Homo sapiens: one gene and its partners. Changing the gene in region 3 together with the main gene of any one other region gives a genetic interaction. Each region holds a gene or a part of one and is shown on either strand. Other genes may lie near its edges. The genes, in order: TULP2, NDUFC1 and PBRM1.

Evidence for each region.
Region 1: changes in PBRM1 (region 3) and TULP2 together harm fitness more than expected from each alone (negative genetic interaction), as found in Homo sapiens cells (one large-scale study listed by BioGRID).
Region 2: changes in PBRM1 (region 3) and NDUFC1 together harm fitness more than expected from each alone (negative genetic interaction), as found in Homo sapiens cells (one large-scale study listed by BioGRID).

Annotation. Positions count from the first base shown.
Region 1 is NC_000019.10:48,892,129-48,895,780, forward strand, and holds part of TULP2 (tubby-related protein 2), read right to left. Parts: intron 3,376-3,652; coding exon 3,238-3,375; intron 3,035-3,237; coding exon 2,870-3,034; intron 1-2,869.
Region 2 is NC_000004.12:139,295,872-139,299,523, forward strand, and holds part of NDUFC1 (NADH dehydrogenase [ubiquinone] 1 subunit C1, mitochondrial precursor), read right to left. Parts: intron 1,573-3,652; 5' UTR 1,514-1,572; intron 497-1,513; exon of another isoform or gene 461-496; intron 90-460; 5' UTR 1-89. UniProt on the Homo sapiens protein: Accessory subunit of the mitochondrial membrane respiratory chain NADH dehydrogenase (Complex I), that is believed not to be involved in catalysis. Complex I functions in the transfer of electrons from NADH to the respiratory chain.
Region 3 is NC_000003.12:52,609,310-52,612,961, reverse strand, and holds part of PBRM1 (protein polybromo-1), read left to right. Parts: intron 1-2,370; exon of another isoform or gene 2,371-2,428; coding exon of another isoform or gene 2,429-2,444; intron 2,445-3,006; coding exon 3,007-3,649; intron 3,650-3,652. UniProt on the Homo sapiens protein: Involved in transcriptional activation and repression of select genes by chromatin remodeling (alteration of DNA-nucleosome topology). Required for the stability of the SWI/SNF chromatin remodeling complex SWI/SNF-B (PBAF).

The DNA of each region.
Region 1 (3,652 bases), on a different chromosome or scaffold from region 3:
AGGCCTTTCTCTCTCACTAATCCTCCTCAGCACAGACCCTTTACGGGTGTCGGGCTGGGGGACCGTCAGGTCTTTCCCTTCCCACGAGGCCATATCTCAGGCTGTCTCAGTCGGGGAAATCCTGGACAATGCCCAGGCTTCCTTGGGCAGGGGTCCCTGCAGCCTTCCACAGTGTGTTATGTTTCTGGTTAATAGAGAATGGAGAATGGCAATGACTTTCACAAAGCATACTGCCTGCAAAACCATTTTTACCAAAGCACATCCTGCCCAGCCCTAAATCCCTTAAAACTTGAGTCAATATAACACATGTTTCTGTGAGCACAGGGTTGGGACAAGAGTTGCAGATTAACAGCATCTCAAAGCAGAACAGTTTTTCTTTTTTTTTTTGGGGGGGGGACGGAGTCTTGCTCTGTCACCCAGGCTGGAGTGCAGTGGCGCGATCTCAGCTCACTGCAAGCTCTGCCTCCCGGGTTCACGCCGTTTTACTGCCTCAGCCTCCCGAATAGCTGGGACTACAGGCGCCCACCACCGCAACCGGCTAATTTTTTGTATTTTCAGTAAACGTGGGGTTTCACTGTGGTCTCGATCTCCTGACCTCGTGATCCGCCCGCCTCGGCCTCCCAAAGTGCTGGGATTACAGGCGTGAGCCACCGCGCCCAGCCAGCAGAACAGTTTTTCTTAGTACAGATCAAAATGGAGTTTCTTATGTCTTCCTTTTTCTACATAGACAAAGTAACGATCTGATCTCTCTTTCTTTTCCCCACACAGCCTAGGTGACAGAGTGAGACTCCGTCTCAAAAAAAAAAAAAATCATTAGGTGAATGAGGTGAATGAAGACACACGGTGGCTCACACCCGTAATCCCAGCACTTTGGGAAGCCAAGGTGAGAGGATCACTTGAGCCCAGGAGTTCAAGACCAGCCTAGGCAACATAGTGACACACCATCTCAAAGCAAAAGAGGCCAGGTGCATTAGCTCACGCCTGTAATCCCAGCACTTTGGGAGGCCGAGGCAGGCAGATCACAAGTTCAGGAGTTTGAGACCAGCTGTGCCAACATGGTGAAACCCTGTCTCTACTAAAAAACACAAAAAATTAGCCGAGCATGGTGGCACGCGCCTGTAACCCCAGCTACTCGGGAGGCTGAGGCAGGAGAATCGCTTGAACCCAGAAGGCAGAGGTTGCAGTGAGCTGAGATCGCGCCATTGCATTCCAGCCTGGGAGACAGAGCAAGACTCTGCCTCAAGAAAAAAAAAAAAAAAGGAATTGAAGAAAGAAGCCACATACAAAAGACCACATATGTATACGATTCCATTTGTGTGAAATGTACAGAATAGCCAAATCTAAGAAGACAGTGGAGGTTGGTGGTTGCCAAGGGCTGGGGTAAATGGAAAAGGGGTGACTGCTAATTGATGCACTATTTCTTTCTTTCTTTTTTTTTTCCTTGAGACAAAGTCTCGCTCTTTCACCCTGGCTGGAATGCAGTAGCCTGATCTCAGTTTACTGCAACCTCTGTCTCCTGGGTTCAAGCAATTCTTCCACCTCAGCCTCCCCAGCAGCTAGGATTACAGGTGCATGCCACCACGCCCAGCTAATTTTTGTATTTTTAGTAGAGACTGGGTTTCACCATGTTGGCCAGACTGGTCTTGAACTCCTGACCTCAGGTGATCCACCCACCTTTGCCTCCCAAAGTGCTGGGATTACAGGCGTGAGCCACCGCGCCCAGCCATGATGCAGGATCTCTATCTGGGGTGATACAAATGTTCTAAAATTGATTGTGGTGACGGTTGCAGAATTATATAAATATAGTTAGCTTCTCGTATCCTACAGGCTCCACATCCCCACTGCTGACCCAAAATATTCAGGAAAGAAATTGAAAAACAACAAGATGACAATAAATAACAGAACCAATTTTTTTTTTCTTTGAGACAGAGTATTGCTCTGTCACCCAGGCTGGAGTACAGTGGCATGATCTCGGCTCACTGCAACCTCGGCCTCCTGGGTTCAAGTGACTCTCTTGCCTTGGCCTCCGGAGTATCTGGGATTACAAGCCTGCACCCCCTTGCCTGGCTAATTTTTGTATTTTTAGTAGAGACATGGTTTCGTCACGTTGGCCAGGCTCGTCTCAAATTCCTGGACTGAAGTGACCAACCAGCCTCAGCCTCCCAAAGTGCTGGAATTACAGGCACTTTATTTTTAAAAATTTTTTTAAATAACATATAACAGCTATTTACGGGCCAGGCATGATGGTTTATGCCTGTAATCCCAGCACTTTGGGAGGCTGAGGTGGGTGGATCATGAGGTCAGGAGTTTAAGACCAGTCCGGCCAGCATGGTGAAACCCCATCTTTACTAAAAATACAAAAATTAGCTGGGCGTGGTGATGCGCACCTGTAGTCCCAGCTACTTGGGAGGCTGAGGCAGGAGAATAGCTTGAACCTAGGAGGCGGAGGTTGCAGTGAGCCAAGATCACGCCACTGCACTCCAGCCTAGGCGACAGAGTGAGACTCCCTCCCAACAACAACAGCAACAAATATTTACATTGCATTTATACTGTATTAGGTATTATAAGTTATCTAGAGATGACTTACAGTATATGGGGGGATGTTCATAGTTTATATGCAAATTTTACACCATTTTATATAAGGGACTTTGGCGTCTGCGGATCTTGGTATCTGTGGGGTTCCTGGAACACATCACCTGCAGATACCGAGGGGCGACCGTGTACTGGAAACCATGGAATTGTGAACTTTAAATGGGTGACTTGTATGGTTTGTGAATTATACTTCAGTGAAGCTGCTGCCTAAGAAAGGGGAAGATTTGCTGCATGAACCAGGAGATCCCAGGTTTCACCCCAATGTCCCCTAAATTACCAGGTCGTTGGTGGGCTTGCCAACCCTTGCGTCGGATTCTCGGAGACTGTTTAAAAGGTGGGGGAGAGACGGAACCATTCTCCACGGAGACTTCCTCCAATTCTGCATCGGAATTGTCTGGGAGCCAGGATAAGAAAGGGGACTGGAGACCGAGATTCCTGAACACTGAGGAAGGAAGGAGGGGAGAGTTGGATTTCTGGATGCTGCAGGAGGAGGCGGCTCAGGACCTGAACTCCTTGGTGTGAGGAAGGAGTGGGTGCGGTCCTGAGCTCCTGAGTATTTTGGACAGATGGATTGAGGCACCAGACTCCTGGGTTTTAGTGGGGACGGAGTTCTGGGGTCTAGGAGGTCGGTGGACTCGCAAATACCTGCTTCTGTCCGCGGTGTCGGGAGGCCGCGCTCGCCCCTGCCGTCTCCACCACAGCTCACGGTGCCCAGGGCACTGTGGATGCCAGAGGGCAGATGTGCCTCTGACACTTTCTTCCGGAGGAAAGGGTTCCCAAGGCCTGGGAGAAGGTTCAGCGAGCCCATGAAAACGATCTACAAATTCCGGTCCTCAACCAAAATCCACCCCGTCACTGGGCTCCCAAATATCACCCCCGCCAGGCGCCGTGGCTCACGCCTGTAATCCCAGCACTTTGGGAGGCCGAGGCAGGCGGATCACCTGAGGTCGGGAGTTCGAGACCAGCCTGACCAACATGGAGAAACACCGTCTCTACTAAAAACACAAAATTAGCCGGGCTTGGTGGCGCATGCCTGTAATCACAGCTACTCGGGAGGCTG
Region 2 (3,652 bases), on a different chromosome or scaffold from region 3:
TCGAGGGCTCTGCAGCAGAGCTCCGTGGGGGCGTCAACGTGAATTCCAGCACGGCAAGGTTCTCTAGCACCCCGGCCTCAGCCTTCTGTCTATACAGTGGAATTAGGAAGAAAATAATTAAAAGAAAAAAGAGTTTACCTATTCTCTGTCCTCTGGGGGTTTTTCACCCCATCTCTACGGCTATTCATCAAGAGGTTTATTAAAATTTTCCTACATGAGCCAGAAGAAAGAAAAGTGTCGTGCTGAATAATAACTAGCATTTGGATTGAATTCTGTGGTCCAGGCACGGTGCATTAATGTATCATATGGTTTACATTCATTGTCTTATTTCATCTTCAAAACGAGCACATATCATGCCGTGGTTATAAGCCTCAATTTACAGATGAAGCTTAAAGAAGACAGCTACTCATCCAAGGTGACATATTATATTTTACAGTTGAAAAGATCTCTTAACACTTACCACTTACACTCACGATCATACTGAAGCCTCACAAACCTGTGAAGTAGAATTAGTGCCTTAGGTAGGCTTAAGATCACACAGATGGCAGAGGTGGGATACAGTTTGAGGTCTTCTGACTCCAGATCTAGTGATCCTCATTAGCCCACCTAACAGACTTGGACCACCCTAGACCATAAGCTGTAGAATCAGCGTTCAAAGCCATTCTGCTCACCACTTTTTAGCTCTATGATTTCTAGGCAAATTACTTAACCTCTCTATACCTAAGTTTTACATCTGTAACATAAAACCTATAGGGTTGCTGAGAAGCTTAAACAAGTGTCTGGTAGTAGTAAACAATTTATTTGGTTTTGCCTATTAAAGACATCGTTCTGAGGAATAGGTTTTATCTTGCACAGTTGAGCCAGATCTTTGTACATTCAATTCAGTTCAATCTGATGTCTAAAGACCAGTAAAAATATTTATAGGTAACAGACAATACATTTTGACCCTTTAAAACTAATCCTTTAAACTTTATGTCATTAATTTTAAAACCAAAATAAATGTTAGCAAATCTCCTATATTCTCTTTAGCAATGTTATTTTAAGATCTTTTTTAACCAAAAATTATTGACCAAAAAGTCAATTAATTGCACTGTGTTTTCTGGCTCATTTTAACATGCAAATGGTGGCTAAATGGATTGCTAAATTGTGAGTCACTTTAGTTTGTAACCTAGTTTGAGCCTCCTGGACTCATGCTCAAGTAAGTAAACTACCCAATGAATGTGCTGAGCCAGTTGTTGGTTCGCCACTTATTGTCCACTCAGCAACCTGTCAGTTGTATATCCTTTCTACACCATCCGTTGGAAGCTTGTCCTGATGAAGCTTTTGCTAGTATCCAACAAGTTGAAACAGATGCTATCTTTAGTCAGAGTATTCAGAACCAGTAAGCAAATTACTAATTTCAGTACTGCTATTGAGAAAGACTGCTTTGTTCTTTTTCAGAGCTTTGGCCCTTGTATCCTTTTACTAGTGTGTATTTTGGGAAAGTGATGAAGTATAAGCACATTTTTCTCACCATATTAGAGCTGATGGGAACTGTACACTTGGAGTACCCAGCTGTATGTGAAACTGCATCTAGAAAAGAATCCTGATTAAGTAATTCCAGCTAGGAACTAATATCTATAATATTTTGTTAGAAGTTGCTTCATAACATTCATGTAAGCATCTTCAGAATTTGAACACTAAAATCTTATTTATGATCCAGGTGAAAAGAGAGAGGATTTGAGTTAGCAGCTAGAAAAGCAAAGTTTCAGTCCAAGATTTTTCCACTGGGAAAAAATCACATCTCCCAAGGAAGGTAAAAAAAGAGCAAGAATTGAAAAACAGTATAAAATGCAAAAAACAAAACAAAAAATCCCTATTTTTATTGATACAGCATGCATGAGAATACTATGAATCAAACTTAGGACTTGGGCCAGTCACAGTGGCTCAGGCCTCTAATCCTAGCACTTTGTGAGAACAAGGTAAATGGATTGCCTGAGTCCAGGAGGTCAAGACTGGCCTGTGCAACATAGGTAGATAACTATCTCTACAAAATGATTTTTTAAAAAATTAGCTGGGTGTGGTGGTGCATGTCTGTGGTTCCAGCTACTCGGGAGGCTGAGGTTGGAAGATCGCTTGGACCTGGGAGGTGAGGCTACAGTAAGCCAAGACTCTGCCACTGTACTCCAGCCTCGGTGACACAGTGAGACCCTGTCACAAAAACAAAACAAAAGAAAAAAACCAACAACCTCCCACCTCCCCACACACCAAGATGTATCTATAAGTTTTTATTTTTTAAGACTCAGCAGCTGGGCGCCCTGGCTCACGCCTGTAATCCCAGCACTTTGGGAGGCCGAGGCGGGCGGATCACCTGAGGTCGGGAGTTCAAGACCAGCCTGACCAACATGGAGAAACCCTGTCTCTACTAAAAATACAAAATTAGCCGGGCATGGTGGTGCATGCCTGTAATTCCAGCTACTCGGGAGGCTGAGGCAGGAAAATCGCTTGAACCCAGGAGGCAGAGTTGCGGTGAGCTGAGATCGCACCATTGCACTCTAGCCTGGGCGACAAGAGCGAAACTCTGTCTCAAAAAAAAAAAAAAAAAAAAAGATTCAGCAGCAGGCCGGGCGTTGGGGCTCACATCTATAATCCCAGCACTTTGGGAGGCTGCGGTGGGTGGATTGCTTAAGCCCAGGAGTTCAAGAGTAGCCTGGGCAACATTGAGAAATCCTGTCTATACACACACACAAAAAAAACCCAGAAGCAATAGCAAATTGTTAACATTTGTTAAATCTAGGTGACAAATACATGAATTTCTTTTATATTCTTTTTTTTTTTTTGGAACAAGGTCTCAGCTCTGTTGCCCAGGCCGGAGAGCAGAGGTGTCATCACAGCTCACTGCAGTCTCGACCTCTGGGGCCGAAGGAATCTTCCCACCCAAGCCCACAAAGTAGCTGGGACTACAGGCTCACAGCACCACACCTGGCAAATTTTAAAATTTTTTTGTAGAGACAGGGTCTCACTATGTTGCCCAGGTTGGTCTCAAACTTCTGGGCTCAAGCGATCTTCCTGCCTCAGCCTCCCAGTGTCGGGATTATAGGTATGAGGCATTATGCCTGGCCTATGTTTTTTTTTTTGAGATGTAGTCTCACTCTGTTGTCCAGGCTGGAGTGCAGTGGTGCGATCTTGGCTCACTGCAACCTCCACCTCCCAGGTTCAAGCGATTGTCTTGCCTCAGCCTCCTGGATAGCTGGGGTTACAGGCACGCACCACCACACCCGGCTAATTTTTGTATTTTTAGTAGAGACGGGGTTTCACCATGTTGGTCAGGCTGGTCTTGAACTCCTGACCTTGTGATCCGCCCGCCTCAGCCTCCCAAAGTGCTGGGATTACAGGTGTGAGCCACCAAGCCCAGCCTTTTTTTTTTTTTTAAATAAGATCCAAGTACTTAATAAGATGTAACAGTCTCAATAGAGAACATCTTACATATATGGAGAAATTTCACTCAACATATCCCTTTTGTAGAATTAAAGTTTGCAAGGTAAATGATTTTATTTCTTTCTTTTTGGTTAATATTTTTTAGAGTTAGCATTTGGAACATAGTGACATGCAAGCACATGGGGTAAGATGAATTAACTATCATCAGCAGCAGCAGCGGCAGCATATAGCCTTG
Region 3 (3,652 bases):
CTCATTAAGTTCTATATAATAAATTTGATTATTATACTCTTTTTTTTTTTTTTTTTGAGACGGATTCTCACTCTGTTGCCCAGGCTGGAGTGCAGTGGCACGATCTCGGCTCACTACAGACTCCGTCTCCTGGGTTCCCCCAATTCTTCTGCCTCAGCCTGCAGGGTAGCTGTAACTACAGGGACACGCCACCATGCCTAGCTAATTTTTTTGTATTTTTAATAGAGACAGGGCTTCACCATGTTGGCCAGACTGGTCTCGATCTCCTGACCTCAAGTGATCCGTCCGCCTCCGCCTCCCAAAGTGCTAGGATTACAGGCATGAGCCACCGCACCCAGCAGATTGTTATACTCTTAAACCCATGATCTAGAGCAGTCTCCTTCCTTTTCTTTCCACATGCCAGTAACTCATTGAAGAAATCAGGTCACTTTCCTGTACAGTGTCCCAAGTTCTAGGTTAGACAGGCTTGCTTCCTTGTGATATCTGTAACTTTTTTCTTTATTTCCCTTATTTCTTATAAATAGAAGTTAACTTTGAAGGTGCGATTAGATTAAGTTTCACCTTGGTGGTGATACTTTATAAGGGGTTTGCTGCCCTTATGTTGTATCATGTCTTGAGGCAGTGTCTGGTTAAAGTAGAATCCAGATAAAGTCCACATACTGCAACTGATTGATACCTCTTTTTTTTTTTTTTTTTTTTTTTTGAGACGGAATCTCGCTCTGTTGCCTAGGCTGGAGTCAGTGGCACGATCTCGGCTCACTGCAACCTCCGCCTCCTGGGTTCAAGTGATTGTCCTGCCTCAGCCTCCCAAGTAGCTGGGACTACAGGTGTGCACCACCACGCCCGGCTGATTTTTGTGTATTTTTAGTAGAGGCAGGGTTTCACCATATTGGCCAGGCTGGTCTTGAACTCCTAACCTCGTGATCTGCCCGCCTCGGCCTCCCAAAGTGCTGGGATTAAAGGTGTGAGCCACCATGCCCAGCCCGATACTTCTTTTAATCTGTAAACTCCCCTCCAGCTCTCTCTTTTTCCACCCCTTACCATTTATCTGTTGAAGAAATTAGATTTGTGCTGTAGTTTCCCATAGTCTGGGTTTTGCTGATTGCATCCATATGTTGTGGGGTTTTTTGTGTGTTTTGTGTTTTGTTTTGTTTTGTGGAGACAGGGTCTTACTCTGTCACCCAGGCTGGAGTGTAGTGGCACATTTTTGGCTCATTGCCACCTCCACCTCCCTTCTGAAGCAGTCCTTCCACTTTAGCCTCTCGGGTAGCTGGGACTACAGGTACACGCCACCACGTCCAGCTCATTTTTTTGTATTTTTAGTAGAGACAGGGTTTTGCTATGTTGCCAGGCTGGTCTTGAACTCCTGGGCTCAAGTGATCTGCCCACCTTGGCCTCCCATAGTACTAGTATTGCAGGCATGAGCCACAGCTCCTGGCCCACTATGTTGTACTTTCATGTGTTCCTCTGTCCTTTGTATTTCCTATAAATTGGTAGTTGGAGCCAGAGGCTTGATCAGATTGAGGTCTGATCCCCTGTTCTCTCCCTTAGGCAGAAAAACCGACTTCATAGGTAATATATGGTCTTCCATCAGGTACATGTGAAATCTATTTATGGCTTTCTGTTAACAGGTGTTGTTGCATACTTCATTAATTATTAATTCATGAAAGGGATGTAAAATTGTGATAGTTTTTAATTTTATTCCTTATTAGCTATAGAGAAACTTTGCCTTATCTAATATTTGATTAGCCAGTGGTACAGTGTTTTTTTTGTGTGTGTCTTGCTTTTTGAAAGGATAAAGGCTTGATTTTTGTTTTATTTTGTTTTCACCTTTACCAGTTTTCAAAATATGTATTGGTTTACTAACATCCTTCAATATTTACCCATTTTGTTGTTTGTTTGTACGTATTATTAAGAACTACCAGACTTAAACATATGGCTGAGTTGTAATTGAAGTTATTGTCCTTATTGATACTCAGGCTGGTTCAGGCTCGTTCCTGTATTCTTTTTGTTTTGTTTTTTTGAGACAGAGTCTCGCTCTGTCGCCCAGGCTAGAGTGTAATGGCTTGATCTCAGCTCACTGCAACCTCTACCTCCTGGGTTCAAGCAATTATCCTGCCTCAGCCTCCCGAGTAACTGGGATTACAGGCGCCACCACCACACTCGGCTAATTTTTTGTATTTTTAATGGACACAGGGTTTCGCCATGTTGGCCAGGTTGATCTTGAACTCCTGACCTCAGGTGATCCACCCACCTTGGCCTCCCAAAGTGTTGGGATTACAGGCATGAGCCACCACGCCCAGCCGGTTCCTATATTCTATTGACATGAAGTCATGGTAAGAAGTCATTGATAGATTCTTTACTGTCTAGTGTTTGAAGATATACCAGACTGGGAATCAGCCATTTACCAAGGAGCCCTACCTTTTTCATGTTTCTGCTGAAAGGTGAGGGCTCCTCAACATTACTATTTGGAATTAGTATTTTAAAACTCTAATGTGGGCTATACTGCTACTGAGGTAGTCATTGTTTGTACGATTTTCAGTGGACAGAGCTAGGAAATTTGTGTGTTTGTTTGTATGTTTATATTTAAAGATAAATTACATCATAAGTTCATAGTGATACTTTCAATTGAGATTAAAGGCCTCAAGGTAATTATTAATGTCCTACGTTTTAACATCCGTTATCTCTTTTTATCCCATGATGAAAATCTCAGTTCTCCAGGATACCAGAGGTGATAGAATGTCACATAGCTACTCATTTGCTTTATTCCTTCTTATTCACAGCTTTCTCAACCTTACAGTAGTCTCCCATCAAAAATATAATTACTGAAAACAGTTAAAAAAAATTTTTAGTACTTTTTTGTCTGCAGGTTATATTTCACTATAGACATGCTAATTGCTAGATTTTACAAATTACTTGGAATCGTCCCTTGTGGTTATGCTACCATCTGTATACAAATTTAGGTTCATTTATTTTATTCATTTAACATTAAATATCTCTCTTTAGGTAGGAAGAGTGGCATTTCTCCTAAAAAATCAAAATACATGACTCCAATGCAGCAGAAACTAAATGAGGTCTATGAAGCTGTAAAGAACTATACTGATAAGAGGGGTCGCCGCCTCAGTGCCATATTTCTGAGGCTTCCCTCTAGATCTGAGTTGCCTGACTACTATCTGACTATTAAAAAGCCCATGGACATGGAAAAAATTCGAAGTCACATGATGGCCAACAAGTACCAAGATATTGACTCTATGGTTGAGGACTTTGTCATGATGTTTAATAATGCCTGTACATACAATGAGCCGGAGTCTTTGATCTACAAAGATGCTCTTGTTCTACACAAAGTCCTGCTTGAAACACGCAGAGACCTGGAGGGAGATGAGGACTCTCATGTCCCAAATGTGACTTTGCTGATTCAAGAGCTTATCCACAATCTTTTTGTGTCAGTCATGAGTCATCAGGATGATGAGGGAAGATGCTACAGCGATTCTTTAGCAGAAATTCCTGCTGTGGATCCCAACTTTCCTAACAAACCACCCCTTACATTTGACATAATTAGGAAGAATGTTGAAAATAATCGCTACCGTCGGCTTGATTTATTTCAAGAGCATATGTTTGAAGTATTGGAACGAGCAAGAAGGATGAATCGGTA